Homo sapiens: one gene and its partner. The main gene of each other region encodes a partner of the protein of the gene in region 2 in a complex. Each region holds a gene or a part of one and is shown on either strand. Other genes may lie near its edges. The genes, in order: SIAH1 and CACYBP.

Region 1 (15,190 bases), on a different chromosome or scaffold from region 2:
CATTTTCATTCTCAACCCTTTGCAGATAACCTTCTGATATGCTAAAGCATTTTCCAAAATATATAGGTATCCTCAATCTCCAGCAAGCCAACAGAGACTGATGGCAAGAATGGCCACTCCCTTCCCTTTCCCTTAAGTAGGAAGAGCCACATAAATTCTTATTACATTACTCTTGTAACTCCTTAACCCCTCTATATAAATTTTCATGCTTAATTTTCTCGTCTTTCCTTGGACCTTGGTTGTTGGTTTTGGTCTTGCTGCTAGTCTCAACGGGTTCCAGAGTCAGCAAGCTAAACACAGTTCTTCATTAATGAAGAACTGCCCCAAACACATATTAAGCACCTACTAAGTGCCAGGTAGACTCAATGGTTTACATATGTTCTCATTTAACCTTTCCAATGACCAAAGTTAGACATTTATCCCCACCTTACTTAAGAAAATAGATTTCGGCTGGGCGCGGTGGCTCGTGCCTGTAATCCCAGCACTTTGGGAGGCTGAGGTGGGCGGATCATGAGGTCAGGTTATCGAGACTACAGTGAAACCCCGTCTCTACTAAAAATACAAAAAATTAGCCAGGCGCGGTGGCGGGCGCCTGTAGTCCCAGCTATTCGGGAGACTGAGGCAGGAGAATGGCGTGAATCCGGGAGGCGGAGCTCGAAGTGAGCCCAGATCACGACACTGCCCTCCAGCCTGGGCGACAGAGCAAGACTCCATCTCAAAAAAAAAAAAAACAAATTTCAAGGACAGGCATGGTGACTCACACCTGTAATCCCAACAACTTTGGGAAGCCAAGGCTGGCGGGATCGCTTGAGGTCAGGAGTTTGAGATCAGCCTGGCCAACGTGGTAAAAAGTTGTCTCTACTAAAAATACAAAAATTAGCTGGGTGTGGTGGCAGGTGCCTGTAATCCCAGCTACTACGGAAGCTGAGGCATAAGAATCGCTTGAACCCGGGAGGGGGAGGTTGCAGTGAGCCAAGATCGTGCCATTGCACTCCAGTCTGGGCAACAAGAGTGAAATTCCATCTCAAAAAAAAAAAAAAAAAAAGTAAGAGCAAGCTGGCACATGCCTGTAGTCTCAGCTACTCAAGAGGCTGAAGAGGGAGGATCAGGTGAGCCCAAGAGGCTGTACTGCACCATGATTGTGTCTGTGAATAGCTACTGCACTCCAGCCTGGGCAATACAGTGCCTTGAAATAAATACGAGCACAGCCAGATGTTTTGTTGTCTCTAATCTCATCTTCTTTTGAATAACCCTAAAAAAATCATGTATGTTCTCCTTACTTACCCTGGTATGGAATATTTAATTTGGCATTCAAAACATCTTTTCCATATTTACAAAAATGTGTCAAGAAAATAAACTTCCTAAAGTCTTTAAATTAAACCTTTACTTTCCATCAAAGTGATAGAATCACATATTCTAAGTCTGCCATTAAGTCATTAGATATGAAATCAAAGCAAAGTATGTATCATGGAGAGGAAAGAGCAGAGAAGAGCAACAGAACCAGGCAGAGGGCCAAACAGGCTTTTTCAACTTTTTATTTCATACCACACATTACTAAAATTTTTAAATAACCTTAAAACTTTTTAGCAACACACTTGAAATTAAAATTATTGAAACATCAGTCTTGATTACAAACTAATCTGCAATATAACCAAGTCTCAGTGTCTATATAAAAACATTCAAATACTATTTACCTAGTTATCTGAATACAGCCATTTACTACCTTATGTTTTATATTCTCTCAGGATACAAAATTCTCACATTCCAGTGCAAGCTTGCTCTTTTACTCCATCTTGGCATTTAAGCTGTGCTTTTTAAAACCTTACTTATAAAATTCATGGTACCTAGTTCTACACTCTACCATATAATTCATTCAACTTCACATTACATCTGACAAATCTGGTAGGTAAGTATGTATACACACACACACACACAGAGAAAAAAATTTTACAGCAGATCAAAATTAGCAGTAATCTATATTTGGGATACTAAACTAAGCATAAAAGAGCATATTGCTAGGAAGACTAAAGAAATTAAAGAAACAGGGTAAAAAGTCACATTAGTGAGTCTGATATATTTTGATTGATGGCTCTTTACTAGTAAAATAGAAAAAAGTAATGGAATTTATAGGAAAGAAATGCCATCTTTTAAAAAATCATGGAGCCTTATTAAAATTCAATTATATTCAGCTGAAATAGTTACAATCTATGTTGACATAAGCAGTACCACCTGAAACTCCAGGCAAACCATTTTAGTTATTTCAACTAAGGATGTAACAGAAGAATTAACCTATATTAATTTCCCTCAAACTAAGATTCTGTTCACAAGGAGTTCACATTTCTCTAAAAATTTAATATTTTACTTTCATGTTTTTAATAGTCTAAAAAACAGTATCAACACATTCTGAATCATCTGAATACACCTGTTAGCCATGTAATTAAATGCCTCTATTCATATTTATGGCCACACTGGCTCTAAGTTGGTCCTATTTTCTCTACGCAAGCTAGAGAAAAGCTGAGGTCGATCTAATAACATAAATAATTCATTTGTGTGAAGCAAAGCCTAAATGCCATCATGGTTTCCACTAAAGCACTTGTATGTCAGTGAAAAAATTAAGATTTCATACGACCACATGATACAGGGCAATTAAGGTATGCTTAACTCAAAAAGAACCTGCCCGGTAACAGTCAATTTCATAACCGTAAGTCAATCCCATAAGTGCAGTTTTAAGACTAAAATTCAGCCTGACAGTATCCAATATTTTAGTGAATCAGTAATTTGAATTTCAATGGTTCTGTGGTTTTGTTTGTATTTAAATTGCAAGTTTTGAACTGTCAGCAACACCTAACAGAGTTGACGGATCACTGGGCTCCTGCCTAATAAACTCTGTTCACCGACTTCACATACTCTTGGTTTTCCTATCTCAGTCACTCCTCAGCTTCCTTTTATTCCTGCTCTTCTCCCCCAAATTATTGAAATTGTAGCTGCCTATAAATTACTGTAATCTCTTCCAAACCAGTCTCTCTGTTTCCATCCTTGTCTCCCACCCTTACACCCTAAGATGTTCTTTTCTTATGTACACTGGTACTTTGGTGATCTCATTCAGTCTCCTAGTTTTAAATTCCATCAACATGCTAAGGATTTCAAAATTTTCATCTCCAGCCCAGATTTTAAAAATAAACACAATGCTCCAGATTTGTCTGAAACCCCAGATTTGTAAATCCAATTGCCCCTTCAGGGGGATGGCCAAAGAGAAACTCCTTATCACCTCCCAAAGTCTCTCCACTCAGAGTCTTCCTTTTTTCAATTAATAGAGACTCCATCCTTCCAGTGACTCAGGTCAAGCGCCTTCGAGTCAGCCTTGATTCTTCTCTTTCACAACATACATCTAAAACAGTCAGGAAATCTTATTATACCTCCCTTCAAAATGTATTCAGAATCCAACCATTCCTCCCTACCTCTACCACTACCATCTAGTCCAAGCCACCAGTATCTCTCATCTGGATTACCACAATATCCTCCCAACCAGTCTCATTGTTCCCAGCTATGTCTCCCACCCTCACCACCTAATATGTTCTGAGCACAGCAATTAGATTAATTAATCCAGCTCCGTTTTATATCAGATGACATAAATCTCTGCTCTACACCCTCCGCTGGCTACCCATGTTAGAGTAAAAGCTGAAATCCTAAAAATAGCCCACAAGGGGCCATTATGTATAAGGATACAGTATGGTGCTGTGTTCCCATTACTCTCTGACTTCATCTCCTACTTTGTTCCCCTTTACTCACTGCACTGACTTCCTTGTTCAATGGCAATGCTAGGTTGCTCCTTTGGGCCTGTGTCTTAAAATACTTTTCTCCTGAATATCCATGTGGCTAACTCCCTAACTTTCAAATCTTTACTTGTTACATTCAATGACACTCACTCAGACCCTCTATTTAAAATAGTAAGCGGCACCCTGCCCACTGCCCCTCTGTGTACTCCTAAATCTTTGGCCCATCTCACGCCTCCTACTCTTTTCCCAGCAAAGAATGTATTATCTTCTAACAGACTACATAATTCACTTATTATTTTTTATTTGTTGTTATAGGCGCCCACTGTCCTCAATTGGAAGGTAGGATTTTTGTCTGGCTCAATTATGTATCCCAAAAACTTAATACAGTGCCTGGCACATAGTACAGACTCCAATAAATATTTTTTGGATGAATAAATACATCAGAAAACAAGAACTTTGGACTTTCAGGCAGCAACATCCAAAGTCAGAAAGCAACAGAACAATGCTTTTAAAATTCTCAAAGAAAATTATGCCCTAGAATTCTATACCCAACTATCTCGAAAGTGTTGAGGGCAGAATGATGATGCAGTTTCAAAATACTACCTCCCCTGGATATGTTCTTAGGAAGCTCCTGGAAGATAAGCTCTTCAAATACAAGGGAAATAACCAAGAAAAAGAACGGGGTTACAATAAACAGAAGACTGCATCTAGGAGAAAGGTAAAGAAACTACTGAAGATAATGACAACTTTATGCTAGAAGAGGGCAACTGAAGGCATCCAAACAACCTGATGGAACATTTAGACAAGCGGCAAGGAATGTGAGGTAGCATTAGCAGTAAGCACAGAAGAAAACAAAGCCAAAATAGGAAGGAAGAAAAAAGATATTACCTACAAAAATAAAAACTAAAAAATGCAGAGAAAGAAGTAATCAGTTTATTACATGGCTCAAACTGAATAACTTTGACAGTCAGGATAAGCAAATAAAAAACTGCAGTGTTACTAACTAAATTAGGAATGTAGGAATGAGAAGGGTATGCACATGTGATGGGGGCAAGAAGAGTTAAAGTCACAAACGGAAATCAACAAAGAAAGCCAAAAACTGAAATCTAGAAACAATAGAGGCGTGTTATTTAAAGACAAAGATAAATGCAAAAATAATCAGCTAAAAGAGGTCAAAGTGGTGGCTACGGCAAGATAATTACTTGAACCCGGGCACGGAGGTTGCAGTGAGCCAAGATGGTGCCACTGAACTCCAGCTAGGGCGACACAGTGAGACTCTAAAAAGTCTATCCTCTAATGTTGGCAAAGGAGTGAGTGTGTATGGATGCCTGTTTGTAATAGTAAACTGAAAACAGCCCTATCCTAAGAAAGTGGTTAAATTATGGTCCACACAACAGAATACTGTGTGCTGCCTTCTTTAAATAAAATGGACTCATACATCAGACTTACTAACATGTAAGAATCAACTGTTTAAACGGGGTGGGGGGAGAGAGGCGAGGAGCAGTAGCTCACGCCTGTAATCCCAGCAACTTTGGGAGGCTGAGACAGGTGGATCACTTGAGGTCAGGAGTTGGAGACCAGCCTGGCCAACATGGTGAAACTGTTTCTACTAAAAATACAAAAATTATCCAGGCATGGTGGTGGGCACCTGTAATCCCAGCTACTAGGGAGGCTGAGGCAAGAGAATTGCTTGAACGCAGGAGTTAGAGGGTATAGTGAGATGAGATCAGGCCAACTGCACTCCAGCCCGGGCGACAGAGCGAGACTCCGTCTCAAAAAAAAACAAAAAACAAAAAACAAATTGGGGGGAGAAAAAAAGCTACAGAATATACAGATTACAATTTCATTTAGGTTAAAAGAAAAAAATAGGTAAGTATAATAGATATGCACATTGATGTATATATTTTCATGTATGTATGCATGTATGTAGCATGTAATGAAACAGAAAAGAAACTGGAAGGACATCCAAACTGCAGAATGTAGTTTAATGGTTTAAGATGCAGGATCAGACAAAGGGAGAGCAAGCCTGGAATTAGAAACCAGAGAGAGATGGGACCACTGAACTACAGGCACACAAAGCATCAAGAACTCCAAGAAACAGAGACTGTCGGCACAAATTCCATCGTTTGAAATTACAGTACACAGTTCAAACATATATAGTTCTTAGAGATGATAATCATGAGAACTACAAGAATTTAGGTCAGATCAAAGAAACTAACTTTAAAATATCTTTGGCTGAGTAAAACAAAAAAATGTGAAGCACACCCAGACTACACCAAAATGTCTATGATGGTTACTTTTTAGTAATCAGATTATAAATAATAGTTTGGGGGTGAGGAGGGATTTCGGTATCTCTCCAATGTTTCATAAAATTATTGGCAACAAAAAATATTACACTTAAAAATTTTAATGCACATTTTATCATATCTCCACATTTTCTGTTAATGAATTGCTAGTAACTTCTACAGAACATCAAATACAGAATTCAAGAGCTGATTTTCTCCTTGCTTTCACTTTTTTTCTCAAAATTCCTCAAATAGATGGATACTTACAGGAAACTTAAAACCAGCCTATTCACAAAAAACTACATATTTTGTAGACATTTTATTTTATACTATAAAAAAAAATCTTATTTATTTTTTCTTGAGACAGAGTCTCGCTCTGTCGCCCAGGCTGGAGTGCAGTGGTGCAATCTCAGCTCACTGCAACCTCCACCTCCCAGGTTCAAGCAATTCTCCCGTCTCAGCCTCCCAAGTAGCTGGGATTACTGGCGCCCGGCACTACACCCGGCTGAAAATATCTTAAACATTTTAAAAGTTAACAAAATTTATGATAGCCCCCCTCCCCTCACAAACTCAAAAGAATACAGTCTGCAAAAATTAACTAACGTCTGTATAGACAAGATATCCGAAGTTGTTCTAATAAAGCTAAATCAGGGCCCTTGACAAGTTTTTAGAAGTAAAGCTACCTTACCCAACAAGCCTGAGTTCTGGCCAAATTCAAAAGGGCAAAATTTAATGTGAAATACAAAGGAAGGAAACCAGGAAGAAGTTTTTAACAGGGAGAGGATTACTTCATTTTGTCAAATAAATTATTGAAGTAATCTTTCCAAGGTAGAGTCTTTGCAGAGAAGCTAGTATACACTTATATTTACTGTATCAACCATCACTAGACCAAGGTGGTCGATGTGACACTAATAAATAACTATACCAAGTACGCTGAAATATTTTCTACAAAATTCAAGACTGGCATTAAACTCCTTAAGAAAATATTTCTCACTGGCAAGATCTGTTTTATAAATATAATTAGTTCTCCAAAGGTTTTTCTCTTTCTAGTTTATTCCATGTGCCCGGACTCCCTGTTCAAAACAAAAACGAATAAGCAAAAAAAACCAAAAACAAAACAAAACAAAAAAAACAAGTCAGTTCAAACATGACTGGGCAACCACAAACCTAATGGAAGGTTTCTGCCAGCTTTATTCTGGTCATATCTTGTCTGTAACATTAAACCTAAAGTTCTGGAAGACTTTTTTTTTTTTTTTTTTTGAGACAGAGTCTTGTTCTGTTGCCCAGGCTGGGTGCAGTGGCACCATCTCGGCTCACTGCAACCTACACCTCCCGGGTTAAGTGATTCTCCTGCCTCAGCCTCCGAGTAGCTGGAATTACAGGGGGATGACACCATGCCCAGCTAATTTTTTTATTTTTAGTAGAGACAAGGACAGGGCTTCACCATGTTGGCCAGGCTAGTCTTGAACTCCTGACCTCAAGTGATCCACCAGCCTCGGCCTCCCCAAAGTGCTGGGATTACAGGCGTGAGCCGCCACGCTGAGCCTCCTGAAGATTTAAGGAAAAAAAAAATCGTTCTAGAAATACTGGTCAGAAAGTATTTGAGATGGTCAGGGAAAAGAATAAGACTTAAAAAACAAAAGAAGGGCCAGGTGTGGCAGCTCACACCTGTAATCCCAACAATCTGGGAGGCCGAGGCGGCAGGATTGCTAAAGCCTTTGAGTTTGAGACCAGCCTGGACAACATAGTGAGATCTCGTCTCTAATAAAAATAAAAATTATAATAAAATAAAATAAGAAGTACTGGGACACATGGCTATTCAGCTGGTAACTTTGTCATGGATAAGCAAATAATACTCCTTAATCACACAAAAAAACATAATGTTGAGTGAAAGAAGCCAAACAGAAATGAAAGAGTACAGGCCGGGCGCAGTGGCTCACGCCTGTAATCCTAGCACTTTGGGAGGCCAAGGCAGGCAGATCACCTGAGGTTGGGAGTTCAAGACCAGCCTGACCAACATGGAGAAACCCCATCTCTACTAAAAACACAAAAAATTAGCCAAGTGTGGTGGTGCATGCCTGTAATCCCAGCTACTCGAGAGGCTGAGGCAGGAGAATCGCTTGAACCCGGGAGGTGGAGGTTGCCGTGAGCCAAGACTGTGCCATTGCACTCCAGCCTGGGCAACAAGAGTGAAACTTTGTCACAAAACAACAACAACAACAACAAAAGAATGAAAGAGTACAAACTCTACTGTTCCATTCATATAAGGCACAAAATTAGGCAAAATAAATCTATGGTGTAAAAAGTCAAGAGGTGGTTTCCTGTGAAGGGGGCGGCTCCTTGTTTCTTCGATCTGGGAGGTGGTTACAATAGCGTTCCTTTTGTGAAAATGTCAAGCTGTACACATGATTTGAGCACTTTTTCCATATGTATTTAGGCTAAATGTCAACAAAATAGTTTACATTTAGAAAATAAAAGTCCTAATATTGCTCTAGGTATTCTCCTAGAATCTCCTTGAACAACAGCCAGATGCTAATATCAGCTAACACTTCACAGCATCTCTCCTCTCTTTCCCTCTGCACAGTTCTTCAACCTGTCTCTCTCTACTACCCATTTGCTCCAGCAACACTCCTCAGGTCCTAGAGCAGTCCAAATTCATCCCTACTTCATGGGGCCTTTATCTGGCTGCATCTTCCATCTAAGATGTACTCCTTCCCCCTTCAAAGGGCGAGCTCCTTATCCTTGGACACCAGGTCTCCCTTCCACCCCACTGGTCTCTTCAGCACTTTGACTCCTTTACAGTACACTTCACAATTTGTAATTCTGTTTCTTTCTTTCCTCACTAGAAGGTAAGTGGTAATATTTAGAGAAGTAACTTACTCAACAACTAATCTTTTTACAACACTTGCTGTGTTAGGCAATGTGCTTTTAGATGCAAAGTAGGCAGTGTCTCTGCTCTCATGGAACTTAAAGTCACAAACACAACTAATAAGTGATAGAGCCAAGAGACACATCCAGATCTGACTCTTAAGGGCTTGTCCTCTTAGCCACTTAATTATACTGACACTCTAGCATTAGGACATGGGGGCTGGGGGGGCGAGGGGAAGGCAGGGAACAGCAATATACTTAATAACTGTTCATGTACTAATAGAACTAAGGCTTAGAGAGGTTCAGTAATCTACCCAAAGTAGCACAAATAGACATTTCAGAGGCTAAATACAATCATGACCAAAGGCACAGAGATGCTAAAGCAGTGTTCAAGGAACAAAAGAACCCAGTTGGCCTAGGTAGGGCAAAGGGGAAACACAGGCAATAAGGCTAGAGAAGTTTGTAAGAAACACTATGCCTTGGTAAAAACAAAACACAACGAAAAGGCTAGAAGAGTTTAATAAGGACAGTGTGGAGTCAGTCGCTCAATAACTTTTTACTGAGCACCACCTATGTTCCAGAAAGAGTCCTAAACTCTTGAGACACAAGGATGACCAAGTCGTCATAGAGATTACAGTCTATCTGGGGAGGCATACAACTAAAGAAAAATTATAATTCAGGAGGATATGTTACAGTGGGACCGAGCAGAGTGCTATGGGAACACAGAGATGACATCCAATTCAATGTGCAGAGTTCACAAAGAGCTTCTCAGCTAGTGATGTCCAGGCTGAGATAAGAGAGCTTAATAGGATGAGAGGGGCTTGCAAGTAAAGTCCAAAATGGCAGGGGAGTAACAAGAGAGGCCAGCTCAGGAGAGGCTATGTACTTACGAACCATATCAAGAACTTAGAACTTTACACTGAAAGCCTTTTAAGTCAGGTTCACCTATTAGAAAGCTCACTTAAACTGCAGTAGGAAAACTGACTGTAAGGCTGGAGACCAAAAGGAGATCTCTTAAAGGTAGAAGGAAATGAATGTAAATGTGAAGAAGAGAGGCAATGCCAGCTTTGAGATAGAGAACAGAAAAAATATCTGCAAAAGACGTATCTAAAAAAGAACTGTTATCCAAAATATGCAAACCTGGCCGAACACGGTGGCTCACGCCTGTAATCCCAGCACTTTGGGAGGCTGAGGCAGGCAGATCACTTGAGGCCAGGAGTTCACCAGGCTGGCCAACATGGCGAAACCCCGTCTCTACTAAATATACAAAAATTAGCCGAGCACGGTGGGCTCGTTCCTCTAATCTCAGCTACTCAGGAGCTACTCAGCAGGCTGAGCACGAGAACAACTGCTTGAGCCTGGGAGGCGGAGGTTGCAGTTAGCTGAGTTGGCGCCACCGCACTCCAGTCTGGACAAGAGTAAGACTCTGTCTCCAAAAAAACAAACAAAAAAAAAACAAAAACTCACCAATAACAAAACAACCCAACCTAAAAAAAAGAGTCAAAAAGACCTTAACTAACTCCCCACCAAAGAGATATACAGATAACAACTAGCATATGAAATGATGCTCCACATCACATGTCATCACGGAAATGCAAATTTAAAACAGTAAGATACCACTACAGGCCAGGCGCAGTGGCCCACGCCTGTAATCCCACCACTTTGGGAGGCCGAGGTGGGCGAATCACTTGAGGTCAGGAGTTCGAGACTGACCTGGCCAGCATGGCAAAACCCCGTCTCTACTAAAAGTAAAAAGAAAAATTAGCCGGGCGTGGTGGTGTATGCCTCTAATCCCAGCTACTCAGGAGGCTGAGGCAGGAGAAATCACTTGAACCTGGGATGTGGAGGTTGCAATGAGCCGAGATCACGCCATTGCACTCCAGCCTGGGCGACAGAGTGAGACTCCGTCTCAAAAAAAAAAAAAAAAAGAACGGCTAAAATCCAGAACAGTGGTAGCTCCAAATCCGGCCGAGGATACAGAGCAACAGGAACGCTCATTCATTGCTTGTAGGAATGCAAAATGGTACAGCCAATCTGGAAGACAGTTTGGCAATTTCTTACAAAACTAAAGATACTCTTCACTTTGGGAGGCTAAGACAGGCAGATCACCTGAGGTCAGGAGATCAAGACCAGCCTGGCCGACATGTTGAAACCCTGCCTCTACTAAAAATCCAAAAATTAGCTGGGCGTCATGGCAGGCGCCTGTAATCCCAGCTACTCAGGAGACTGAGGCACGAGAATCACTTGAACCCAGGAGGTGGAAGTTGCAGTGAGCTGAGATTGTGCCACTGTACTCCACCCCAGGGCACAGAGTGAGACTGTCTCAAAAAAACAGCAGCAAAACAACTAAACTCTTACTATCTGATCCAGCAATCACATTCCTTGGCATTTACCCAAAGGAGTTACAAACTCATGGCCACACAAAAACCTGCAAATGGACGTTTACAGCAGCTTTATTCAGAATTGCCAAGACTTCGAAGCCAACCAAGACATCCTTCAGTAGGTGAATGGATAAACCAACTGTGGTACATCTAGACAACAGATTATTATGCAGCCCTAAAGAAATGAATTACCAAGCCATAAAGACGTGGAGGAAACCTAAATGCATATTACTAAGTGAAAGAAGCCAATGTGAAAAGGCTACATATTTTAAAAGCCCAGTTACACATATGACATTCTGGAAAAGGCAAAACTATGGTGACAATAAAAGAAAGAAGATAAGTGGTTGGGGGTGTGGGGACAAATAGGTGGAAGTCAGAGGATTTCTAGGGTGGTGAAAGCATTCATGTATGTCATTATGTATTTGTCTAAACCCATAAAATGTACGCCACTATAATCTTTGGGTAATAATGGTGTGTCAATGTAGGTTCCTCAATTGTAACAAACGTACCACTTTGGCGGGGAATGTTGATAATGGAGGAGGTTACACGTGTAGGGGCAGGGGCTACACGCGAAATCTCTTGTCTCTTCTACTCAAGTTGCTATGAACCTAATGCTGCTCTAAAAAATAAAGTCAATTAAAAAAATCTGCATAAGGGGATATATGGGTCTACATCTCAGCAGGCAAAAAGATTGGAGGCCAGGCACAGCAGCTCACACCTGTAATCTCAGCACTTTGGGAGTCCGAGGTGGGCGGATTACTTGAGCCCAGGAGTTTGTGACCAGCCTAGGCAAGATGGCGAGACCTGACCTGGTCTCTACAAAATAACTTTTTAAAAAATTAGCCCAGTGTGATGGCACATGCTCCTAGTCCCAGCCACTTATGAGGCTAAGGTGGGGGGAACCTTTGAGCCCAGTTGGAGGCCACAATAAGCTATGACATCACCACTGCACTCCAGCCTGGGCAACATAGCAAGACTATCTCAAAAAAAAATAAAAATAAAAATAAAGATCTGAATGTCATTAGAATACGCACAGTAGTAGGTGAGTAAACAAATACCTACTGAGCACTAGGTACTGAGGATATATATTAAAAACACAATTCTTGCCCTTATGCAGCAGATATTCTAGTAACTATAGCCATGGGAACTAAATCATTTAAAGTGCATTAGACATCCTGCTATTTTGAAGAATACTATTAAGGATACTTATTGTAAAAAGGAAAATTTCCTTTTTTGGCGGGGGGATGGAAGGTTCTGGGGATTTCATACAGATTTTGTTGAAAGAGAGGGCTGTACAAAAAATATCTAGATTTTAACATTTCACAAAGCGAATATGGAAATTCCACAAAATTCTGTTAATAAATCTCTTTAAACAAAGAACCTCCAATCTTTAAAAATTTTGTAAATCAACTGCTTAAAAATACAATTTAAGCAGTCACCTAAAACTCTGTAAATTACTAAACTTTGTTACCCTAGTTATGTAAGATCTGTTTTCAAAACACCATACTCACTGAAAATCCTATTTGTTATTTTATGTCATTACTGACATAGCTAGATAATTCCTTCATAACTCCAATTTAACCTAATCATGCTTTTTAATTACAGATATTAAGAAAGAATATTTCTCTACAGCAATTTCGTAAGAACTTCCCGAAGCTTAGAGGGAATAGATTAATATTTAACAGATGTAAAATGCATTAACATTGTTTCTGAATTTGTACTTTGTGGAATACTTATCCTGAAAAGTTATCAGTTTCACATCTATTATACGTATTTCAGTTTAAAATATTAAATGTTAGTAAATTATGTTGGAAAGATGCCAATAACGAAAAAAAAACTGTTTGGCATAAACTTTGGGGAACAAATTCTGGATATAATCGCAACTAACCATCCAAGATTACAGAAATCTGTATCTTTATTTAAATTTTCAGAATGAAACACTACACAACCAATTTGTGTAATCTACTTTGAGTCTCAAGATCTACCAGTCTAAAGTCCTCCTAACAACTAATTAAAATCCTCTCCACCATAATTTGAGCCAACAACTCCCAGATAAAATTACCAGACCATTACATTTGCCACCACACTACATTCTGCTCTTCAGTAACTTCTAAAAGTGATGGTAACACCATAGATACACACTCAAGTATTCACTGTCCCACTTTTCTAAGTTGGTTAACTCAAGTCCTTGAAAGTGAACTGATCAATAAATCTAAACTAGCTAAGAGAAGACCTCATTTTAATCAATTTGATTTTTTTTAATCACAAAGATATAGCCATTCAAATCCCCGGCCACAGCAATTTCCAAAATGCCACCATCTCAGAAAGTCTGTTAATTTATCATACAAATCTCCTTGTCCTTTTTAACAACAAAATGCATTGAAAGAAAAAACCCAGCACTAAAGATCTGTGACCTGATTTCACAAATTCTGGTCTATGCACTTTCATCATACCAACACATCATGCCAAGAAAACCTCGTAAGTTTAGCTATTAAACTACAGTCTTAACAGTAAGCATTTGTTGAGAACTTAGTATGGGGCTGCCACTGCTTTCAGTCCACCTATTGTCATCTCATCAATTCTCAACAGGGCTTGAGGTAGATACTGTCGTTACACCCATTTTGCAGATAAGGAAAGCGAAGCACAGAGAAGTATCTGCCCAAGGTCACAAACCAGTGGAGCAGGATTTGACCCAAAGCAGACAGTCGGACTTCACAGCCCGTGCTCTCAACATCCAACTGCTGAAGAGTTAACAATTTACCCTTGACAGCCGCTATAAGCAAAGGTAAATGCTCAACTGCTAGGAAGGGACAGTCAGAACACCGTCCCATATCCAGTATCCATGTCTCTCTGTTTGTTTATGGCCTCTATGACTTTGGCAAAAGAAGTACACACAATCTGATTTTCCGAACACCCAAGCTGGACTTTTCTGAATGTCCGAGCAAACAAATTATGTATCTTTCCAGGAACGGGCAGACAGCGAAAACGAACCTACGCATCGGAGTGGCCCAGGTTATTCACTTTAAGTTATAAATTTGGGAGAGTTAAGAAAGGACCCCAAACTACCCGGCAAATGAACCCTAGGAAATGCCAGGTTTATAATAAGCTAGAGCTTCCCCGGCACGCCGTTCACGCGCTCTCCTCTCTAACGACATAAACAAGGGAGGAGGCTGCATTCTTCCCACTGCACAATGAAGCCTCCGGCCGAAGCGGCAGGAAGAGCGCAGCCCCGTCCCGGACGGCTCCAGCCGGGGGTCGGGGGCAGAGAGCGGAGGCCGAGGCCCGCCGAGCGGCGCGGTGCGGCCCGGGCCTCCGGGCGCCGCGGGGAGGAGGGGGAGGGAGGGCAGGGCCCCGGCAGCTGCCCGCACTCAGCTGACCTCCGCCATGTTGGCCGCACACCCCGGGACCCTCCACAACAAAGGCCGGCACGAGGGCGCGGGGCGCGCCGGGCGCCACCCCCGGCCGGGCCCGCCTCCCGGGCGCGCGGGGGCCGGGCCGCCGCCGAGGCCCTTCCCCCGCCCTCGGCCCGGCCGCGCGGGGCCGACCCCCGCCGCCACCCCGCCGGGCCCGGGGCTCCAGGGGCGGGGGCGAGCCGGCTTGCGAAGGCTGAAGGCAGGGGAGGGGCGGGGGGCGGCGCTCGACCGGGCGGCCCGACTCCGGCCGAGACAAAGGCGCCGCCGCGCCGACTACTGCCCGCGCCCCGGCCGGGCCGCCCTTCCCGCCCTCCGCCATTACCGGGCCTGGGCGCCCGCCTGTCGGAGAGCCCCTCGCCGCCGGCTCCTCCCTCAGGCCGGGCCCCACTTACCTGTGGGCGGAGAGCGCGCCTCGGACCCCGGTCCTGGCACCAACGCGCTCCGTCGCCAACCCCCGCCACCGCGGG
Region 2 (15,009 bases):
ATTACAAAGAGTAGTTTTTAAAAGACAGTTTCCTTATTTTTATAGCTGCTTCTAACTCCAAGGAGGCTAAGTGCTTAAGACCTCCTTTTATGTATACGAGTATTATGCACAATGCTAACACTAGCATTAATTTAAGCACTTTACATAATGGTATTGCACTTCAGTGTATCATTTCAACTTTGTGAAATAAATTATTACTATCGCATAAATGCAGAAACTGAGGCACAGAGTGATTAAGCTGCCAAAGGTCACAAACAATAAGCTGTAAACCTGGCATAAAACTCAAGTCTCACTCTTAACTACCTTCAAACGTTTACTTCCTCCCTGATTTTAATGGAATATTCTTACAATAGCCTATTCTACAAAAGGAGTTGGCAAATGTTCTCTGTCGAGGGCCGCATAGTAAATATTTTAGGTTTCATTTAGGGCCATATGGTCTGCTGTAGCCACTTAACTCTGCCATTGTAGCACAAAAGCATCCACAAACAACACATGAACAAATAAGCCTGGCTATGTCCCAATAAAACATTCACAAAACAGGCGGTGGTCCCTGTTACAGAGGACAAATTCATTCCAGTTCATCTCAGTTCTAAATCAGCCAGGTTCAATTTGGTAAGGTTTCACAATATTACAATCAAAAAAAGCACACTCACTTTTTTTGAACTGCCTTCCACAGAGATGGGTTTCAAGAGATTGTTCACAATCATGGAGTAACTCTTCCCATTTAGATTCTTTACCAAAAGATCAAATGACCTGCAACACAATGGTGAATACATCATCTTTCTAGTTCTATGAAAGGTACCCTTACTCCATAGTTCTTGTGGGAAAAAAGCTGCTGGCTTTATTTCAGGGTGTGCATTTGGCCAGTTAACGCTCACCTCTTCAAAGTAGTTGTAAAGGATAATTAATTCTAAATTTAAGAATTTTAAAAACTGCAAAGAAGAGAGTCTCAAGATAAGGCAATGTTGACTGTTAATTCACTGTCTTTCCCATTATAATGAGAACTCACCTCTCTGTGAAATGCACCTGCACATTCTCAGTGGGAACTTGATGAACTCCAGTTAAGGTAATGTAGATTTTCACAAACTTATCTGACTGATCCCATCCTGGCAACGACAACAAAAGATGGGACGTAAGTAAGCCTCTGAAACTATCTTTAGAACAGCAAATGCACATGGCTCATAAGTCAGGAAAGTAAAATTATGAAAATCCAGTCATATAAACATGAAAAAATTTGAAATATAAGAAATTTTCTAGGTTGAGAAATGGAGCCTCAAAGCAGTTAAGTACTCTACCCAAAGCTAGGCATCTAACAAGTGGTAGAATTCAGATTCAAATCCAGGTTTCTGAATACAAAACCTATGCTCTTTTTATCCCTCAGAATAAAAATATGATCACTAAATACATTCTTTAAGATTAGTTCATTTACAGCTTTTATGGAAACAATTTTGTCCGACATCTAAATATTGGTAGTTCTCCACTAAGCTGGATGGCTAAGTATCAATACTAATTCCATAACCATTTCTACTTCTGTAAGTAGTCAAACAAATGGAATCCTAGCTCTCTTAATTCCTTTCCAGGGCAAAGTAGAATGTAAAAGACTCCAATTCTTCATCCAAATCTGACAAACCTACTGGTATCTGTTAAATGCCATTTCAGTATGTATTATCAAACTACCAGCACGTCTCTGACCTAGAAGAACTCTGTCAACATAAAAGACATATATATAAATACTTCACAAAATACCATCACATTTGTAGAAAATAAAAAACTTCACAAAAAAGCATCTTCTGTTTATCAAGAATATATACATACATATCCCTGACTATTGCTCACTTAGTCCTATAGAATAGAAACATGCCCCATCCTCCATGACGTTTTTCACATTGCATGCCTATATCAAACATCTCATGTACCCCATAAATATATACACCTACTATGTACCCTCGAAAATTAAAAAGAAACAGTGTTGATGAAAAAATGCCCTAGTGGGGTCCAGAGAACTTCATTTATTAATAGTTTCTTCCCATTCAGTCAGTCCATCCTCCGGATTGACAAGTTTCTCCCTCAACACAAATCTATGTTCCTGGTTAAAATACCATAATCCTCAACACCTTCAGACCAGTTTCCTATACTCAACTGAGTACACGGTGCAATTTCCTATATTACTATATAGTACATCTCTTAAGCACGACATACACATGCTTTTCACTATTAACAATATTCAAAATAGATCATGCCTTCCAACTCTCTATTCACATTCTCTGCTCATGCTGTTCCCCTCCTTTTTGACTTGCTGAATGTACGACTCACCCTTCACACTCAAATCTCTCTAATTCTCCCTGTTCCTCACCTCCAGAATTATTTCTTCAGCTATGTTACCTATTATGTGCTAGACATTATTAGCACAAAGAAAAACAAGACTGTCCTTGCTCCAATGAGAGCTCATCATTCATATTCAAGTTGCGCTGCCGCCAAAACAAAAAACTGTATACACCATTGAAGGAAAACAGTATTACTACATTGTTATACTACGAGTTATACGTCAATGTCCCAACCACAACATGAGCAAGGACTGGGTCTTAGTCACTGTTGTGTATCCGTAAGTCAAAGCACAATAGTGATACACATTAGGTGCTCAAAAATATTTCCTGAATTTAACTGGATTCCTCTCCTCAGTTAATTGTGGTGGTTGGCAGAGTGAAACATAAAACATGATTAAAAACCACCACCACCACCACCACCACCAAAGCTGTGTCTTATACTGAACAATTTCAGAATAAGTTCCTTCCTTGTTGTTACATTTTGTAGTGAATCACCTTACTCTTGTTAACAGCTTCTAGAACGCATCCTTTCCTATTTATATCTTAAAAAAGTTTTATTAAATAAAAACTGATGGGTCTTGCTCCAAACCACCAAAAACACAGACTCAAAACTCATTGGGGATGAATTTGTTAGACCACTATGAGGAATAGGTTGCTCGGAGGCAGAACTGGCTATAGGGAAGCAAGTCATACCATAATTACTGATTTTCACCGTATAGCCCGTTGTAATGGGAGCAACCACAGCAGCTGGTTTTTCATTATCAAGAAGTTCTGCTTTCTTCTGTGATTTCTGTTGCATCTTGTTCTTGATTTCTGTCTCAATCTTGGATTTTTCAGCTGTAAGGGCATCACGTACTCTTTTCCTAGTAGCCTTTTCCAGCAACACCTTTACCTCTTCTAGATCTTTCTGTAGCTGTGTTAAGACAAAAAATAAGTTAGCTATGATAAATAAGGAAATGGCTTGATATTGTGCGTATCACTCATTTCAACTTACTGAAATAAGCACTAAGAATTAAGAAGTTCATCTAAATTTTCTAGGATTGAGTTGCAACTTCAATTCTTCCATCTGGCTTATTAACTGTAATTAACTCAAGCTTCCTTTTTTTCAAAAGGAAAACTTTGAACAATCTTGAACAAACAATAAATAGGTCTTCAAACCTAAATTTTCCAGTTTATGTTTTAAAATATTTACAAGAAACGTCTGCGACCTAAAAAGTAAAACAAAGAACTTTTTTTTGACAAAGGATTCATAGATTTCCTTGTAACATCTAATCCGAGTGTCATTAGATGTTAGACACTTTTAAAATATTTAAGAGATGAGAGAACATGCAGTGACCATGGTAAAATGCTTTTATAGCAAACTTAACTGAGGTAATGAATGCTCCACTTTCTGTCACTGATTGGTCTTCATTATCTTCCCACCTCAAATACCTCACATAAAAAAAGTCTTAATTTTTAAGACAAAAGATAAAAAAAAAAATTTCTGCTTTTGAGGAAAAGTCTTGCTCTGAAGCTGGGTCAGTCTTACACTCAGAAGTGTAGGAGTTGGTTGCACAGAAGGTGACAAAAGACCGAAAATGCAACATACTCTTGGAAATTATCTTTTGAAAAAGCCACCACGTTCTCATTTTCTTCTCTTGCCAATCCATCATCTATTAAAGTCTACTACTTTCTACTTTCTAGAGATAGAGGCAACATTTTATGAAATTCAAGAGTTAAAGACAATGTTAGAAAATTATTGAGCCTAAGTTTTTTTTCCCCCAATTACCCTCTGACATACTGCAAATACACAAGATCTTTCCAAACAGCTGTTTCACTTTTCTTACAATAACTTTACACTCTGGCTTGACACTACCAACTTGACCAAAAAAATCTTGTGTCACAGCTTGATATCAAAAGCTCAATTTAAAAAAGTCTTTTAGTGCTTTATAACTCAGAATATCAGACGCACAACAGAGTTTGAAAGCCTGTTTCTTAATAGTCTTATAAAATGCAATAACAGAACTAATTCTTTTCTTTTACTACAAGTCTTTTGTTATCTCATTTAACTCAGATGCCCTAGTTTTGCCTATCTATAACAGATGACATGGTATAAAAAGTTCAACTCTGGCCAGGTGCAGTGGCTCACACCTGTAATCCCAGTACTTTGGGAGGCCAAAGCGGGTGGATCACTTGAGGTTAGGGGTTCGAGACCAACATGACCAACACGGCGAAAGCCCGTCTCTACTTAAAATTCAAAAATTTGCCGGGTGTGGTGGCACGTGCCTGTAATCCCAGCTACTCGGGAAGCTGAGGCAGAAGAATCGCTTGAACCCGGGAGGCAAAGGTTGCAGTGACCCGAGATCGCGCCATTGCACTCCAGCCCGGGCAACAAGAGCAAAACTCGGTCTCCCAAAAAAAAAAAAAAATCAACTCTGCCCAACCCTCTTGTCCACACTCTCGACCCTTCCAAGAACAGCTCATATTACTATGACAAAAAATCTTGCAAACTCATCTTTTGAGCATAGAACCAAAATGTTTCAGTTCAAAGTAATATTTTTATTGTAATGGTTTCAAAAAAACGCTGATTCTACAACTCCTAATTCATAATAAAAATATTGAAATGTAAAATGAAATATATTAAGTCTAAGCAAGAGGTTTTGCTTTTTGACTGAAATAGGAATACTTTATCTAGCAGAATGAGAAAGGTACTTCGAATTAGGCAAGGGATTCCCCCAATGGCTGAATTCCCAAGCCCTCTTTATTGCCAGTTTTGACTCTAAAGTACTCTTTTTATTATGAAGTATCCACTGAAAAAACTTAAAACTGAGACAGTTCCTCAGTTCTGTTATTGGCAGACTTGAAACCAACAAAGGTGATTCCTTTGATGCTTTTTCTGCACAAATACTTTAAGATGTCCTAGTTTCCTATCTAATTTATCATGTAATTTTCCTTGCCTTCTTGGCATGTGTTTGTTTTACGTATATAAAAATTTTATTTCTCTTTTATCCCTACCCATAAGGCATTCAAGCTTTATCTTCCTATTTCCTAATTTTTCACTAGGAGGCATTAACACCAATGTGCCTCAAAAATGGGCAAAGGAATTCAACACACATTTCTCCAAAGACACAGAAATGGACACCAAGAACATTAAAGATGCTCAACATCTTCATCATTGGGTAAACGCATATCAAATTCCCAAGATGCCACTTCACACCCAGTAGGATGGTATCATAAACCGAAAAAGAAAAATAAAACACCCCAGAAAATAACAAATGTTGATAATGATGTGGAGAAACTTTCAGAAGCTTCAAACATTTCTTACAGGAATATGATGCAACCACTCTGGAAACAGTCTAACAGTTTCTCAGAAAGTTACCATATGAACCAGTAATTCCACTCCTAGGTATATACCCCAGAGAACTGAAAACACATCCACACAAAAAACTTGGATACAGTACTCGCAGCAGCATTATTTATGCTAGTCACGAAGTGGAAATAAGGCCAGGCGCCATGGCTCACACCTGTAATCCCAGCACTTTCAGAGGCCGAGGCGGGCGGGCGGATCACTTGAGATCAGGAGTTCGAGACCAGCCTGGCCAACGTGGTGAAACCCCGTCGCTACTAAAAATACAAAAATTAGCCGGGCATGGTGGCGCGCGCCTGTAATCCCAGCTTCTCAGGAGGCTAAGGCAGGAGAATCCTTTGAACCCGGGAGACGGAGATTGCAGTGAGCCGAGATTGCGCCATTGCACTCCAGCCTGGGCGACAGAGCGAGACTCCGTCTCAAACAAAGAAGTGGAAATAAATGTCCATAAACGGATGAAAGGATAAACACAATGTGCCACATGCATATAATAGAATATTATTTAGCCATAAAGAGCATGTGTACTGATACACGCTACACCATGGATGAACTTGAAAATGTTAGTGCTAAGTTGAAGGAGCCAAAAAACAAAAGGCCACATACAGCGTGACTCCATTTATATGAAATGCCTACAATAGGCAAATTCACAGAAAGTACAAGATGAGTAGTTGTCAGGGGCTGAGGGAGGAATGGGAAGCAATTGTTTAAAACACACTACATGGTTTCTTTCTGGAGTGATGAAAATGTCCTGAAACTAGACAGTGGTGATGGCTGCACTACACTGTGAATATATTTAAACAAAAAACAAATACCTGAATTGTACACTTTAAAATGGTTAAAAACTTGAATTTTATCTCAAACAAAACAAAAATCAAGTGCCCTCAAATGTATATTTCTAAGTGCCTAAACTGAGAACGATCTCTACTTTCAAGAGGACTAACACTGAGCTATCCACCTGCAAGACTGTGAAGTTATCTCCTAGGGGCACATAGTACCCAAGACCTACCTTAAAAGACTTGTCACAAGATACCCAGATTAATACTGGAACACACAAACCTCATAGTTTTTCTTCATTTAAAGAAAAGATTTTGAGTTTAAAAAACAAAAACAAAACAAAACAAAAGCTTGGGACTCCCCAGTACTTGTTTTCATAAAGCAAATCTAGTTAATACACACCCAACACTTAACTGTGAATAACTGTCCCGTCTTCACCTCCCACTTACGCCAGGAAATGAGCAATACAAGTACTATCATTCCCATTTTCTAACTGAGCAAACTAAGTCTCCACAAAATTTAATTCTCCAACGTTCAGAGTTTACAGAGCTTTAACACAGGCCATTCGCTTTCTTACTATTAATTACAACTAACTTTCCAAGTTATTTATTTTAAAAATCACATACAGCAGATTGCTGTTTGCCAATCACTGACTTAAACACCTAGAAATCATATTTTTTAACAACCCTATGAAATGGATGCTACTGCGACACAGAGAAGCTAAACAACTTGCCCAGAGTAACACAGCTCCTCGTGTGTAGAGAAAACCTGACTAGGAGAATTCAAGTGCTAGCACTGAGAACTCACCTTCCAACCGCCCTCTACCAAGAACGACACTCATGTTTGCACCCAGCTTTGCTTGAATGAAGCTTCCTGTCCACTGGCTGGGAAACCAGGGCAGAAAGGGCCTGAGGAACACGCGCAAAGGGCCGCTCTCCCAGACCCACTCCCCGCACCGCCTGCACGGATAATCGCCGCACACCCCCGCTCGAGCCCAGCAGGCGAGTGGGGTGCGAGGTCGAGTGGAAGCGCTGGGGAGCCGACGGCGCAGCAAGGGGCGAGTGAGGTGTCCCCCGGGAAGGCGGCGCACTGACTGGCGCGGGACCGGGTGGCCGCAGGGCGGCTCAGCCCACGGAAACGGCGGTAGGGCGGGAGGCTGGCGCTGCAGCTCCAGCCGGGGGGCATAAGGAATATGGGGCCGGACCACTTACCTCTTCTGAAGCCATGGGGGCTGGGTCAGGCCGAAGTCCCGAGCTGCAGCCGCGCAGAAGGAGGAACAGGAAACCCCGCGCCGAGCCCTCAAACCGAGCGCAGACGCCTACCCGCACGAGTCGCGGCGCTGCAGCCTGCGCCCACACCGACCCTGCGCAAGATCGCGGCCCGCCTCCCGCACGCGACGGATCTCGAACCTTCGCGAGGCAGCCGCCGCCACCGCCCACCGCGAGCACGCACAGCCCGCCAAGCCTGGCTCCACCCACCCTTCCTCGCCTCGCCGAGCCTAGCCCCACCCCTCCCCGCCCCGCCGAGTCTGGCTCCGCCCGCCTGCCGAATCTCCTAGCAACGCTCAAGTCTCGCGAGCGAACCGGCAATCCGAGAAGAGTAATGTCTTGCTCTCCGCCCTGACAACTTTTATGTATTATAATTTGACCGCGCTGGGCCACGCTGCGCAGTCGCAGCTCGGAACCGCTGCGTTAACCCAGCCCCGGAAATAACGTACCGATCTTCGGAGTCCAAGTCGGAAGTTGACTAGAGAGTCACCTGCTTTCGTCCGCTCTAGGACACCAGACACACCAGGCCGCCATGTTGTGTAAGGTTAGTCTCTCAGCCTCCGCGAGAAGAAGGCGAAAAATGGGGAGGAGCAGCCTGGTTACTTTCAAACGAGAAAGAACGGATATGTTAAGCGTGGAGGGCTCCTAATGGTAGCGGTTTGATTTTCAGTGAGTTTGGCGCGGTGGAGACGTCACCGCGGTCTAACAGTTCCGACGTGGTGGCGTCATCACTGGCCGCCGTAGGAGGTGGAGCTACGTTGGCCTCGTGACCGGGCCCTGTAGCGGAAGCCCAGGTCAAGGCCCTAACAAAAGGGCCCGCCTATGGCCACAGTTTCAGGCCCTCCTTTCAGTCATGGACTGTTGAAGCACGATTTCCTGGTGCTTTCGCCCCTTTCACCGACCATTTCAAGAGTCCGTAGTTCTCGCCTGGGTTTGGATTCGGTATAAGTGAGCCTGTTTACCATCAAAGAAAATGGTGAAATGTCTTCTGGAGACGATGTTCTCTTCTGGTTCTAACCCTGTCACTCAGTGAGACCCCCAGAGAAGCCTAGTTTTCAGATTATTCTAGTCCTTGGCAGGCTCAAGATGTCAACAACACGGTTGGAAACAACCCCTGAGAGGTCACATAGCGCGCACTCAGCTTTACAGATCGTCCAAGGCAGCGACCCCTGAGAGGTCACATAGCGCGCACTCAGCTTTATAGATCGTCCAAGGCAGCAATTAGAATCAGCAACTCGGAGAGGAAAAAAAGCTGTTAGCGGAATGGAGGCTGACCATTATCTGTAGTAAAGAATCGGAAGTACAGTACAAAAATAAATTACCGAAACGCAACATGCGTGAATTTCACACAAAAAAATGAAGTTGAGGGAAAGAAGCCAGACATGGAAGAGTTCATATTGCGTGGTTCCATTTAAAAACTAGCCCATGGTGTTAATGAGCATAGTGGGGAGGACAATGACATGAAAGAGCCACCAGGGGGCTTTTGAGGTTCAGGTAATGTTTCTTGATTTGGACACTGATTATAGATAGGTGGGTTCACTTTAGAAATCTCATTGAGTTGTAAACGTATATTTATGTACGTAGTTTTTTCTGTAGATTATGCTTAAGGCCCGGCGAAGGGGAATTTGCCCAGGTAATGGAAATATTACACCGATACATAGAATTGTCAAAGTTCATGGGATGAACTCCTAAGAGCTGTGTATTTTATCGTATAAATTTTTTTAAGTGTCCAACCAATAGCCTGGAATTATTAAGTACATAATTAAATAAAAACAAATATCCCATGGACCTAATGCAGTGAACAGTTACCTCGTTCTCTTAATTGCTCAGGCTAAGGACTCATACCTGAGTCTTCTATCTCAGGCCTTACATCTTATATAACAAGCCTTACTGGCTTAATCTTCAAAATATGTAGCGAATTTAACGAGTTCTCACAACCTCTGCTTCTACCACCTGACGGGGTTTGGGACATGCTACCCAAAAATATGGCACCTAGACATATTGAATACTTTGAACTGAAGGAATTTGAGAAAGAACATATGCAGGAATGTCTCTAACTTTCTTGCACCTTTCTGCTCTGAAGCAGGACGTAATACCCTCATGTGAGAATTGCCCTGTCTATACCTGGAATAAAAGTAACATCTTTATCTCTGAAAACACAGGGACGTAGAGACGAATATGAACATCAGGCCTTGCTAAGTTTCCCCCAGTTTATTACCCTTAGATCACAGTCTTTTAGCCCCATCACATTTTCCCACAATTCTCCATTCTTCTTCAAACCTACTCTAAACAACACTAAGGTTAACTATTTATTCGGGTCTTCATTTCTTTATGAAGTTTCCATGTTATGTAAAACTAACATTAATATTTATGCTTTTCTCTTGTTAATTTGTCTTTTGTTACAGGATCCCCAGCCAGTGAGCCTAAAATGGGTAGAAGGAAAAGATATTTCTTACCCTACGCACCCAGGTCCAAGTCATCATTATTTTGTCTGAAATTTATCTTCCTAACTGATTTCTCTGCTTCCCCATTGTGCCTTAAGAGTTAGTTTTCCACAGAGCAGCTCGAGATATCTTTTCAGATCATTATATCCCTTTGCTTAAAAACCTCTAACAGCTTCCTATTAGGCTTAGAATAAAGTACAAACTCCTTAATGTGAACTTGAGTGTTTTACGTATCTTATCTCACCTTTATGAGCTTCATGTCAGAACCCATCTCTCACCACTCTTCCTTCCCCGCTCCCTGATTTAAACAGTCTGGCACTTTACTTATTCATTGAACCCACTGGGTTTGCTCTTGCCTCCAAGTCTGTACCCAGCTTTCTCTCTACCTGTAATCCTCTTCCTCTAGGTCATCACACAGATCGTTTCTTCACTCTATTTAGGTCTTTCAGAAGTAACACTAAGGGAGGCTTTTCCAGACAATATTATGCAAATATAAATGGACATGTGACAAATACTTTATTCGACTTATTAGTTACTGAGAGTGTATTTGAGTAGCCAGGTATTTATAGGCAATTTAACAATGTAATGTTAGTATAAGGTGGCAAGGTTAGATATAAACCTGTTAATGTCTCACAGGGTAATAAACTATAACTTTTGGTGTTATCTGTTCCACTGGAAAGGAAGTAGGGATTTGCATTCTTACTGGACAAAAATCTACAAGTTAATGTATAGATTCAGTATAGGACTTTTAAATCAATAGTGAACGATGAAATGAACAAAGTACAATCCCCTAGTCCTTGGTTTGACACTGAAAGGACATGCCACTCACCTTTTTGCCTTGTTTCCAAAGTTTGGAATAATTTTCCTTTCAAAATGAAATTATTTCTCATTCAGTTGTCCTATTGCAGGCAGCCTTTACTGCTTCCCCCAGTTAATGTACCTGTCAAGCTTACTCATGATTTCCTAACTGCCAAATTCAATGGATATTTTTAATTTTTTTTTTGCTATGACTCATACTGTTCCCTTCGGGCTTGTCAGCAGATAAATGACCTTCTGGGGACTGTGCAAAATATGGAATGCTTAATGAATTTGTGTGTTATTCTTGTGCAGGGGACACAACAGTCTTCTCTGTAGATTACAGTTTTAGTGTATGTGCTGTTGAAGTGAGCACTTCTGAGTAATTTTGATTGTTTTACTTTTTATGTAAAATTTCACATTGTTTAAAACACCAGATGGGGGCCAGGCATGGTGGCTCATGCCTGCAATCCCAGCACTTTGGGAGGCTGAGGCGAGTGGATTGCTTGGGCTCAGGAGTTTGAGACCAGCCTTGCCATGTGGCAAAACCTTGTCTCTATAAAAAATAGAAATATCAGCCAGGCATGGTGGTGTATGCCTGTAGTCCCAGCTACTTGGGAGGCTGAGGTGGGAGGCACTTGAGCCTGGGAGGTGGAGGTTGAAGTGAGCTGAGATCACGCCACTGCACTCCAGCCTGGGTGACAGAGCAAGACCATCTCAGAAAACAAACAAACAAAAAATACCACATGGCCAAATGAAAGATGTCTGTGGTCTGAATTTGGGCCAAAAGCTGTAATCTTACAGTCTTTGATTATTTTTTAATACATGCTGAATTCCAAGAGGAGCTGACAAATCTCTTGAGATTTCACTTGGGTTCCATGGATTCCCAGCACAAAATGCAAATGCAAATGAGATATGATTGGGATTCTCTGCACACTATCTCCACTTTCATAAGTGCCTCTGAAGTTTAGTTTGAATTTTATAGTATCTCCTACCTTGCTGTACCTTAAAGGACTAACAGCAGCTACCTGACCCAGGATTAGCCAGTCATATTTTTTCCAGAATTTGTAATTGGAACAATTGAGATGGTAGTCTTCTGCTGGTAGTTTGAAGAGAGGATATGTAAACTTGGTAGCTGTGTACTTAGAAGCAGAGAAAGCCTGTTTTCAGAGAGAAGAATGAAGCAGGTAAGTCATCTGGAAGGACAAGCAGAAGCACAATTTTGGGAACAGTTGCTTTCAGAGTCCTGATGGCATTCCAGCCCCTTGTCCTAGTGCCAGTTCAGGCCCAAGTGTTTGGCCTTTGGGACCTATGATACAGATATCCTATTTCCTTTTAATTAATTGCCTCTTAAAATTACTATTATTAAGCTAGCTTGCAAGGGTTTCTGTTACGTGGAATCAAGGAACCTCAGTAGAGAGGAAAATGAAGCACTTTGTGGTGGTGCTGCACAGGGTATCATTTTGCAGGGTATATACTGTGTGTTTTCTACGTTGACTGGAGTCTGGGGTCAGGTGTAAGAAGTGTTACATAAACATTGGGTTCAAATGAGTCAGAATAAAGTCAACTAAAAAAATAAAAAAGACATACATGGACTTCAGAACAAATGTTTATTACTGCTTAATGGGGCCAAAGGGGCAACACAAAGCATTGAAAACATCACTGGCTCACAAAAACAGTCACCTTGTTACCTTCTCAGTTGCATTTGTTTATTTCACAAGGCTTCATTCACACATAAAAACAAGATACTAATCCAATTCAAGTTCATAACGATTATAAAAGTAAACATTTGTTGGGACAATGTACAATAAATTGCACTTTTTAGACAAGCATTACATTTACATTTATAGAGTGTACTATACATAATACATGGAATTACGGAAACGTCTAATTGGTCATTGTTTATAGAGGAAGAGGCTGATCACTAACGTTTATTTTGTAGTTAATTAGTACTGTTCAGACTAATCAACTCCTTTATTCTAGAACCTGTTTTCATTAGAGATGCCATGGACAAAATAATGGAATTCATAAAAATAGACAATTCCAGAATCTCTACTACCTCCTCTGCAAGGGAAAGGTAGGAGTTAGAAAGAAAGGAAGTGGGGCTGACTGAGAAACTTTGTCCCTCATTTGAACTAAGGATCCATGCATTATGCAAAATACCAAAAATAGAGAAACTGATACAAAAGGCTTTTGGGACATCTTGGATCTGGGACCATCTCCAGCCTTATTCTTGTGCTTTCATGACACCAGAGTCTTTCGATGCATTTATATTCTCACAATTCAGTCCATATATTTTATCCCATATATAATATATAGTTATTAAAAGTTATACAGTTTAATGGAAAAGATTTTACATGTTAACTAATTGCCAATGAAAAAGGAAAATAACTTAAAATGTTCACTTTCTACTCAATGATTCTTTTTTCTTAAGCTTTTCAGAATACCACTAATGACAAACCAGAGATGGAGGTAGGAAGAATGGGATATATTAATGAAATGTTTTTATAGCAGGCAGCAAATTCAGGTGGAGATAAGCTTGACATATGTAGTCTTTTAGATGCAAACTGAGAAAGGAATGCCAGACAGCTGACTGCAGTCACTAAAATCTCCTATATGCCCACTTTTCTCATTACAACTCAAGATCAGCATCTCCTATTGAGGTGCAGCCAAGGTTGAAGTCCTCATTTTGGTCACTTTTGAAAGATAAAGAATTTGCTAAGGTAAAGGGCTTTGCCTGTATTAAATGGAAGCCATTATGAGAGAGGAAGAATGTGTTGGGACAGTTCTAGTTCAGTGTGACTATCAGCATGGCGACGAGAAAGAGTTTTATATCTGGTTGTAGGAAACAGGCTGCAGAGCTGTGGTCTGGCCTTCTGGCTTTCATCATCATTTCTTGAAATCTCAATGTGTATTTGGTTGTGTGGTACCCAGGTAAACAAAAGCAGCAGAGATACTCTATATAAAATTCTTCCAATTAAACACACATACAAACCTAATAGTGTTCAAATCATACAACAGAATTTCTTCACACTCATTTGTAATTGGAGAAAAGGAGTCAGTATTTTGGAGTGTTTTTAAGGGCAAGTTATATAATATAATCATCTTGCTAATCAAGTAAAAGTGTTCTTTCCCAGAAGATAAAACAAAACCAAGGCATTTAATTTTTTAAAAGTTTTTTCCCTTAAAGGGGCCCCCCTAATCAGGCAGGTACCTAAGTGTTTGATGCAAAGGTTGGTGGGAGAGTTAGTAGACAGATTTTAGTGAAAGTATGAAGACTTAAACCCCTACATCAGTTACACATGTGATTCTCCTGGGTGACTGGCTCACTCCTTTAAAGATGTAACTCTATCTCCTCTGCCCAAATCTGTATTGTTTTCCGTTGGTTTTCTCACTTCAGCTAGGAAATAAAGCAACTAGTTATTAACTGGAAAATATTTTAAGAAAATGGAGCAGGGGTTGGAGAAAAATAAATATTAATACATCATAGGAAAAAAATGAAACAAGATACATACTATTAAATATCCCCACATCCATACAAAGGTTGCTTTTCTACTTTACTCAGGACATTTCAGAAAGCCAATGAAGAAGTACTAATTTAACAGCTGGGAGAGGGGCAGAAGACACTGGTTGAATGGCATTCCTATTAGTGTTCCTGATAGGCACTCATAAATAAACAGAACATTAAGTAACAGAATTTCTTTGCATTAAATTATATGTAACTAAATAAAACCAAATTTTGACATGGTTCAGGATGTGGGAAGCTAGCAAACATATGCACTGCAAAATCCAGCTTGGTTTCTTTCAGATTTAAAGACGTGTTTAGATTCTCAAGATACAAAAGCTGATGAACTGAATTATGAAGTTGAATTTCATTCATTTAATTTTTTCCACAGAATTTAATGAAAATAGAAATGATCAATTCTTAGATACTGCAAATATTAGATTTTCAGAGGAATGTTTTGTACAGAGTGCATCCTAGCAAAGGATGAAAAACACTAGAATGTTTTGAAACTTTCCTGGATATTTGGCTGGTTAATCTCTTCTAAGTGAAATTC

The links.
Region 1: the proteins of CACYBP (region 2) and SIAH1 are in contact, whole or in part, in a crystal structure (PDB 2A25), measured with the Homo sapiens proteins. Residues at the interface, in NP_055227.1 of Homo sapiens: Lys59, Pro60, Ala61, Ala62, Val63, Val64, Ala65, Pro66, Ile67; in NP_003022.3 of Homo sapiens: Leu158, Gln159, Asp162, Ile163, Val164, Phe165, Leu166, Ala167, Thr168, Val176, Asp177, Trp178, Val179, Met180, Asn276.

The regions. Positions count from the first base shown.
Region 1 is NC_000016.10:48,370,089-48,385,278, forward strand, and holds part of SIAH1 (E3 ubiquitin-protein ligase SIAH1), read right to left. Parts: 5' UTR 15,116-15,190; intron 14,782-15,115; exon of another isoform or gene 14,688-14,781; intron 1-14,687. UniProt on the Homo sapiens protein: E3 ubiquitin-protein ligase that mediates ubiquitination and subsequent proteasomal degradation of target proteins.
Region 2 is NC_000001.11:174,992,842-175,007,850, reverse strand, and holds the start of CACYBP (calcyclin-binding protein), read right to left. Parts: upstream 7,905-15,009; 5' UTR 7,671-7,904; coding exon 7,656-7,670; intron 3,238-7,655; coding exon 3,018-3,237; intron 1,107-3,017; coding exon 1,010-1,106; intron 754-1,009; coding exon 654-753; intron 1-653. UniProt on the Homo sapiens protein: May be involved in calcium-dependent ubiquitination and subsequent proteasomal degradation of target proteins. Probably serves as a molecular bridge in ubiquitin E3 complexes. Participates in the ubiquitin-mediated degradation of beta-catenin (CTNNB1).